2 separate regions of the Homo sapiens genome follow, and region 1 is linked to region 2. The links come from fine-mapping of genetic effects on gene expression. Tissue or cell type: macrophages. Region 2 holds a variant in brackets; the other region holds the start of a gene. All regions are shown on one strand. Distances are between the middles of the regions.

What was found.
Region 1: PDE8A starts here. The variant in region 2 is fine-mapped to the expression of PDE8A in macrophages (Nedelec 2016, PIP 0.95).

The regions. Positions count from the first base shown.
Region 1 is chr15:84,979,779-84,984,249 of GRCh38, forward strand. It overlaps PDE8A (phosphodiesterase 8A), which reads left to right and starts at 2,078. Exons shown (of 22, transcript NM_002605.3): 1 at 2,078-2,570. The coding sequence starts at 2,385. RefSeq lists enhancers at 1-77, 78-577, 1,727-2,259 and silencers at 530-579, 1,140-1,189, 1,510-1,999.
Region 2 is chr15:85,004,323-85,008,322 of GRCh38, forward strand. All of the region lies in intron 1 of PDE8A (phosphodiesterase 8A), which reads left to right. Among named protein-coding and RNA genes, the nearest start is that of PDE8A, 24 kb to the left of the region's middle. The variant G/C (reference allele first, on the strand shown) is at 1,682.

The DNA.
Region 1 (4,471 bases), 24 kb before region 2:
CGGTGCACACGGGGCTTTTCAGGCCAGCTGATCCCCCAGCCCTAGTCCCCAACTCCTTCATTTAGTGCATGGCCCAAGGACCAACAAGGGAGGCGGGACGCCGAGGTCCTGCCTAGGAGGGGAGGGCCGAGAGGACTAGAGCTGCTTGGAGCCCCAGAAGCGGCAAGGTCAGCGCCGGGAGTCGTCAAGGCCGTACTTCTCTGCAGGGCGGGGAGGAGAGGTCGCGCTTTAAACTTCCATGAACTCTGTTGGTTCCAAGCATTTTCTCCATGAAGTATCCTTTATTTACAAGAGCTCCAGATTCTACCTGGAAAAAAGACCTCTTAAAATTGCAGAGCAAAGGCAGAAAAAAATTATACGATTTAGGCGGAATAAAGAGTGATGTTTAAAAATCTTTTCCTTTGTTTTTTAAGACATCTTCACCAAGCCAGTAGTACTTTTATAAGGCAGAGAAGCATAAATATTAATATTGCTTAATGGGCTTAAACTTGGTAATAGAGCCACGTGCCAGTGGTTCGGGGCAGTTTCGCCAGTAACGTGCTCTCGGGTTACCCTGCTCGGGCCAGAGATCGAGGCTCCGGGGACCCGGCACCTGAACCTGTGCTGCAGTCCCAGCGCGACAGCAGGGAATCCAGCCCGCAGCACGCCTCCGGGTCTTTGCAGTAGCCGGGCCAAGGCGGGAGCGGCTGCCTCTCAGGGTCGCTCCAGGGCCGCGCTAGGAAAGGTGTGGACGGTCGGAGAGGACAGGAAGGAGCCGGCTGCACCGCGCCAGGGTCTCCGCAAACCGGGAGCCCAGGGAGGGCGGGAAGACTGGCGGGGGTCCGAGGCAGCCCGCTACAGGATACGTGATGGACGCCCAGAGACACCGCCCTCCAGCTGGTGGGGGAGGAGCCCCAGCCACCAAGAAGTTAAGTGACTGGCCCAGTTCACACAGCAAGCTAGTGGCTGTGTGCGTGTCCGGGGTCCTCATGGGCCCCAGGCCTGCAATGCGTACGCCCCTTCCCCTGGCTCTGCCTTTGGGGTCTCGGACGCCCGACTAGCACTTTGGTTAAAATGAGAGGAGGACGGGCGCCTGCAGCCTGCCCGGTGCTGTAGCTTTGCGGCCGCCCCGGCGCCTGTGTAATCCGAGGCGTGGCGCGCCAGGTTTTGGCCTGCGAGGGAGCGCACGTGGGCTGCGGCTTCTCGCGGACGCCCAGGCCCCACCCACCCGGGACCCGGCGCGCGGCGCCCCAGTTTGACTTTCACTACCCCCAAAGGAGGTCTTTCCACCGGCCTCTTTTCTGGGTAACAGCTCCAGGGCTCACACTTGGTGACCCCACCGAGGTCAAGTAGCCGCTAAGTTACGGAGCCGGAATTCGAATTTGGCGGTCGGGCTTCTGGTGGCCTCGGGACGGAGGTGGCTGTGTGTCCCTGGGCAAGTCTCTTTCCTTCTCTGGGTAGCCCAGTCGGGCGCCCCGCCTGTCGTCGCCGCGCATGCTCAGTTGCGGGCGGCGTCCGGAGGAGGTGGCGGGCGCCCCAGCTGCTTTGCATTGACGCCAGCACCCGCTGGAGGTCACCGCTGGGGGCTCGGCGCGGCACGCTGCCGGCAAAACCCGGCCCGGATCACGGAGCCGGAGCCGGAGCCGTACCGCCAGCAACTCCTGGGTGCGCGCAGCCGTTTCTGCGCTTCTCGACGGTGCGGCCCCAGGCCCCGCTGGAGCCGAGCTGCTCCCCTCCCTACCCTGGCGGACGTGGCCCGGCCGCTCCGAGGGGTTTCCCTCGGACCCCGCGCCTAAACCCCGGCCAGCGGGAGCGTCTAAGGCTAGCCTTGTACCCCACCGGCACTCGGCCTGGGGGGGCTTTTCCGCGAGGCGGCGGCCCAGCGGGCGGAGCGGCGTGGGTGTCCACATCTAGGCGGAGTCTGGAGCCGGGGAGGCGGCGGCGGCGGCGGCGGGAGCGGGGCCGGGCGCGGCCGGGAGCTCGCCTCCCCCGGGGGTCGTGCCGCAGCTCGGCGAGGGCAGCGTGGCTCGCGCGGCGTGGACTCAGCCGCTCCTGGGTAAGGAGAGCGCAAATCTCCTCCCCCTATTTCCCCGGAAGCGCGGCCGAGGCGAGCCCGGCGATGTGAGAGGCGGCCGTCGGCTCCTGCCTCAGGAAGGGCATGTTCGGAGGGGCGGCCTCGGCACGCCACCCGCCTAAGCGCCCCCTTCCCACCGCAGCCGCCGCCGCCGCAGCGCCCGCACCGCGATAAAAGGGGCGGCCGCGTTTCCTGACGCGAGATCCGCGCTCGCCGCCGCCCGCCCAGGCGGCGATGACACGGCGCCCGCGGCGGCCCGGAGGCGCCGGGTGGGCCGTTTGCTGACCGGATCGCGGCTACCCGCCAGCGTGTCCGCGGCGCCGCCGCCAGCATGGGCTGTGCCCCGAGCATCCACATTTCCGAGCGCCTGGTGGCCGAGGACGCGCCTAGCCCCGCGGCACCGCCGCTGTCGTCCGGCGGGCCGCGCCTCCCGCAGGGCCAGAAGACGGCCGCCTTGCCCCGGACCCGCGGCGCCGGCCTCTTGGAGTCGGAGCTTCGCGACGGCAGCGGCAAGAAGGTAAGGGGCGCCGGGCACTCTGGGGCCGCCGCGAAACTCGGGCCCGGCCAGTAAGCAACTTTCCCGCAGGGGCCGGGCGGGGTCCCCCCCACCCGGCCTCGGTGCCCTCTTGTCCCGCTTTGGATGGTTCTGATTGACGCCAGTCTCCCGCCTTGCCGGGGCAGCGTTCAGAGAAGGACCGACCCAGGTCCCGCGACCCTGATTTCCTAGGGTTGCGATTAGGACGCCGCCTGTGTCGCGGCGTCGGTTTTTTGGACACATCCGACTCCCGGAGCGGCGGGGCCCGATGTGAAGTTGACTGAGGCGCTTGCATCAATTTCCTCTCCAAGAGCGGGTGTTTGAGGGAAACCCCCAGGATATTCTGGCGCGCCCCTGCAATGTTAAATCAGTGTGAACTTTGTTCTTTTCCTGTGGTAGAAAGGGAAGGGCGACTGGCCTCACCACTCTTTTCCCTCTGTCAGCTTTGCACATGCAGTTGCAGGTTACCATTTTCTTCGGGACTGCTAGAATGTAATCTGGAACATCAGCTTTGCTTCATTGCACATGTATTTGAGGTCCACGTTTATTAGCATACATACTGTATTTAAAGCATATGTAATTAGAAAATACTGTGAAACGCGATTTTTGAAGCATTCAGCAGAACAAAGTTAATCTTTTATTAAGCCGACTTACTGGGACATTTTGTGACTGGGGTTTTTTGTTTTTTTACATTGCGTGTCTTCTCCAGCGCATGTTGCCTTGGCTTATGTTTTGTCAAAGTTTCTGGGCTTAGTCTTTGTTGAGGTTTTCTAAAGGAAAGTTAAAAAGGAAAAAGAAAAACGTGATCATTAAGGCACACAGCAGCAGCTTTCCAGTTCTCTCATTTCAGAATTTAAAGCTGGAACTCATGCGTTGGTTTATGTTTTGTTAAACCAGTAAAAGACAACAACAACAAAATTCGTGCATGGCTGCAGATTGTTGGCTGTCATCCCTCTCATCACGACCAGTTTTTGAAAGAGTAATTTGCAAAATTTGTTTGATTTTTCCTTGCTTGCTGAGAACTGCTGAACCTCCGAAGTTTGAGGGATATAGTTTGATGTACTTTCTGTCTTACATTTCTAGCAGTCGTCATGATACTTTTTCTGTACGAAAGGGGAAAGTCTTTTTCAGTGTTGCATAACAGTTGATTTCCCCACCATTCCCATACCCTAAGTGAAAATTCAACTTTGTTCTGATTATCAGAAATTGAATTCCTTCTCCTATAGATTCTTTAAAGAAACCTCTGATGGTTTAGGCTTACTAACTCAAGGTGCTCTTAATATCAGTGTTAAGCTGTGTGTTAAGCCTACTTGGCTTTAAAAAAGTGTTACACAGGTGCATATGGAAACTTTAACAGCTTTCAAGTTTTCAGTCCAAATCTAACATTTTGCAGACTAATGTGATAATTTCAGATTACCAAAGTAGCCCTTTTATAGTGAGGGGCCTTTGTGTCTTACAGGCTTTTTTTGTGGTGGATTGGGTGTCCTAAAATTCACCTAGGTGTCTTGTAAGCCTCCCCAGTGCAGCAGCAGCTTGCTCTTGTGCTATCGCAGTGCCGTTAGGTCCCTGAGTTTTTAAGTACTTACTTCAACCATTCTTCTGTATTGGCAGACCATTGTCTTGTGTTGGGGGCTCAGAAAATACTTTCATCCTTAAAGTGCCTAACCCAGTGGCATACACATAGTAGGTACTAAATAAATGTTTACTGATTTCTTAAAAAATTGTTAACTGATTGATGAAACTTTTTCAGTCATTGGAATTTGATTTCATAAAGCCTCCTATGTAGACTTCAAAATAATAGTATTTCCAGAGCAGGAGTCAAATTATAAATTATAACACCACAACCACAGAAATAATAGCCCCATACTTGTTATTCATGAACT
Region 2 (4,000 bases):
CATGGAATTCATCTGGTCCCAGTTACTAATTCAGGGGCAGGCATGTCATAGAAACTGTCCCAATCAGACTATGGAGTGGTTGGGGGAAGATGTTCCTCCCACCTCCCTCACAGCCCCCCACAGTGAGGACAAAGCCAACTCCTGGGTGAGAATAGGCTTAGAGAATTGCAAACCCGTATTGTGAAGTCCTACCAAACCTTTCCTGAAGCTCGCAAGAGCTGACCCTGGACTCTGCGTTAGCATGAGGCAGTAAATCCACTCTATCGCCTAATACTTTAAGATTAATTTTCTTGACTTGCAACCACAAGCATCCTGGCTGATACAACCAATGAAATGGAAGAGGAATAGGGAGAGAGAAAGGATACAATCTGAATCTCTAAGTTCTGCTTCCGTTCATTGCTGTCAGTTCTATGATGTTTCTTTGAATACTTGAACACAACCAAGTTGGGTCTGAATGGATGTATCTTAGTTTCACTTCCCCATTCTCTGGAATTAGAGTGGGGATAATTACATTTTTTAATATTCTTTTTTTTTTTTTTTTACCTTTAGACAATGTTTTCTCTCTGGATTGAATGATACATAGTTTCTTTGAAGAATACATTATGACATTTTATTTCTCTTCCACCATAATGGAATCATATGGACTCAACATAGTCCATATGATTTTTTTTCCTGTTTTGTTTTAGTGACTTTTCTAAAGTTTGTCTTTTCATCTAGGAAGTATATAGAATACATTTATCTTACACATTGCAGTATGCATTTGTTTTATAGCTGGGTATTATCTCTATATTACTATAGGACTTTTTTTTGTTTTTTGTTTTGAAACAGGGTCTTGCTGTGTCACCCAGACTGGAGTATAGTGGCATGATCACAGCTTGAGCTCCTGGGCTCAAATGATCCTCTCACCTCAGCCCCCTGAGTAGCTGGGACTGCTGCCATGCACCACCACATCTGGCTAATGTTTTAATTTTTTTGTAGAGAAAGGTTCTCACTATATTGCCCAGGCTGGTCTTGAACTCCCGGACTCAAGCAATCTTCCTGCCTTGGCCTCCCAAAGTGTTGGGATTACAAGTATGTGCCACTGTGCCCAGCTGTTATTACAGGAACTTTTAATATTTTGAGTTAAATATTCCAGGCCATTTTAGAATTTGAATAGCTTGTCAAATTTGTTGATTTTATAGCACCTCCGTCTTGAAAAATATGCCCCCTGGTGTTCCTAAAAGAACATTTTGAGAGAATTATATGGTATTTAGTAAGGCAATTAGAAATCACCAAGTATTTAGGGACTATTGCTTAAGAAGCTAATTTGCACAATCAGAATTCATTAGCCCAGGACACAGACACCTTATACACCTGTGGTGACAAATGAAAACTGTGAAAGTCCAATCTGATTCATTCCTCTCAGAATATGGAGGACAGGAGAGTGGGGACAACCTCAGCATTAGGACTGCCCTCTCTCGTTTTGTTTCAAAAAGAGTTTAAGTAACTTAAAAAATACATATAATAAGTTTAAAAAAAAAAGGAAATTGGGCCAAGGGAACATGGCGAGAACTGACCAATTAAGTCAGGAGTGAGGTCAGTATGTGGAAACACATGCCACAGGGGCATGCATGATTGCCATGGGGCTGGGTCACACGTTCGGCTCTGAGCTTCCACAGCCTCACCAAATACGAAAACAGTT[G/C]CAGAATTCTGGAGATTTAAAAATGGCAAATGACTCAGGAGAAGTACAGTTTCTGAGCTCAGACCTAAAGAAATTATTCTCTCAGGAAGGGGAACATCACACTCTGGGGACTGTTGTGAGGTGGGGGGAGGGATAGCATTAGGAGACATACCTAATGCTAAATGACGAGTTAATGGGTGCAGCACACCAGCATGGCACATGTATACATATGTAACTAACCGGCACATTGTGCACATGTACCCTAAAACTTAAAGTATTATTATTATAATAATAATAATAAAAGAAAGTATTCTCATGGGTCCTTTCAGAGGGACAAGGTTCTGAACAATGTTGCCATCATAAATGTGGTGGTGAATGTCTCTCAGTGCAAGCTGAGGGCAGGATGCCATACACAGATTCCAGGTGGGGCTAAAGTACATGGTCCAGGCACTCAGTTAGTTTGATTTGGGAATTAACATTTAGTCTACCTGGAAGAATGTGGTATTACCCATTTTTAATCTTGGCCAATTTTATTTGCATTAAGTTGATTTGAAACGGATATCAGTCTTTGTCCATATGTTTATCAACCATTTGTAATTTTTTTTATATTGTCTATTACTTTGGCTGTTTTCCTATTGGAGAAATAGAGTTTTTCTTCTTGTGTAGATTTTTTAAAAGTTAAGAATGTTAATCTTTTTGTCATGTGTGGTGAATAACTTTTTTTTTTTCCCTGGTTTGCCTTTTAAACTTACCCCTGGTAAACATTTTTAGGATTGCTCACTGAAATAGGAGGGAATTAGGCTACTGTATTGCGAGTGGGAGGATGAGATTAGGGCATGTATATGATGTCCCTTCTGGCATTAGAGACTTTTGACATGTACTTGAGAAGAGGGAATATTTGGAATTTGGACTAGTCCCTACGAAGAGGAGAGGAGGAGTGGTTGGGGACATGGAGAAAGCACCTTCGGCAGCACTTGGTGTCCAGCTGTGGTGGGACATTGTGCATTTAATTACCATTCTGCAAGCTGTGTGATCTTCAGCAGTGTTTGGCCATTCTTCTGTACATGGGTGAAAGATAGACAGTTAGATTGATCTGGAATTGGAGTTTTGCATTTCGCAGAATGTCCAGTAGCTACTGATGAGAGAGCAAAAGTGTGGGATGTGGGTTTGGGTTTGATAGAAGGGAAAAGCATTAGAGGGGGACTAGGAGAACAGATGATATAGGGCCAGGCAGTGTCAGTTAAAGGGGCCAAATGATTATATGCTTAGAGCAGTGCCTAATAGGTGGAGCTTCTCAACACGATTCAGCATGGGTGGTGGTGGTAAGTGAAGACTGAAGAAGCAGCCAGCCACAGTAGCACAAAAGCAGGCAAAACAGATCTGTGCTGTTAGAATTCAGCACAGTGGTACTGGGAGGGGACACAGGGCGGCTTCTAGTATGCCGGTAATGTTGCTTCTTGATCTGGGTGCTGGTTATACAGGTACGTTCAGTTTGCAAAAATAAATCTATTAGTACAGTTACGCTATATGTACTTTCTGTGTATGTTCAATAAAATGTAAAAAATAATGAAAGAGAGCACATACTTCGGTGCCCCACCACATTGTTTTCAGATCTCAGCTCTGCAACTTTATAGCTGTGAGACCTTGGGCAAATTACTTAACCTGTTTGTGCCTCAGATTTCAAGTCATATAAAATGAGAATAATACGTACATCACAGGAGTGCTGGGAGGATTAAATGAGTCTCCCAATAGTGTTGAGTACATAGTAAATACTCCCAGAGTGTTGCGTATTATTATTTTTTAAATAATTATTATAAATGCGAATATGTATGAGGGAGAACTGATGAATTGGAAATTTGTGGTCAGAGAGAGCTCTTGGACATTCTGCCAAATGACATTCCTAAGTATGGCCATACAGTGGTGCCTGTAGTGGAGTGGGGTTGGACTGCAGCTCATAGTCAGAATTAAAGGGAAGGGTGAGGTGGTTGTGTTGCCATATGAACCTTGACCTTGCCCAGGGTGATGGTAGTACTTGGAGTGAGCTTGAAGCACTGAGGTCCTTAATGTATGTGAGTGACTTAGAGGTCAAGAGAAGGTGGCAGGGGTGGCATTGCTGTGTGTTATGAGCCTCAGGGTATCTAGGAGTGACAGTGGGAGAGTCAGAAGCTGGCTCCCTCTAATAGGGAGTGGTCTGGGCAGCTGTGGCCTTTGCAGAAAGTCCTATTCCAGGACTTTCCCTACAGTGTCTGTGCCTGCATAGTCAGTGGCTCAGGGAGGGATCAGAAGCCAGGGAACTTTGCAATGTTGTGATGGTGAAATATGGGTTAATTATATTTGCTT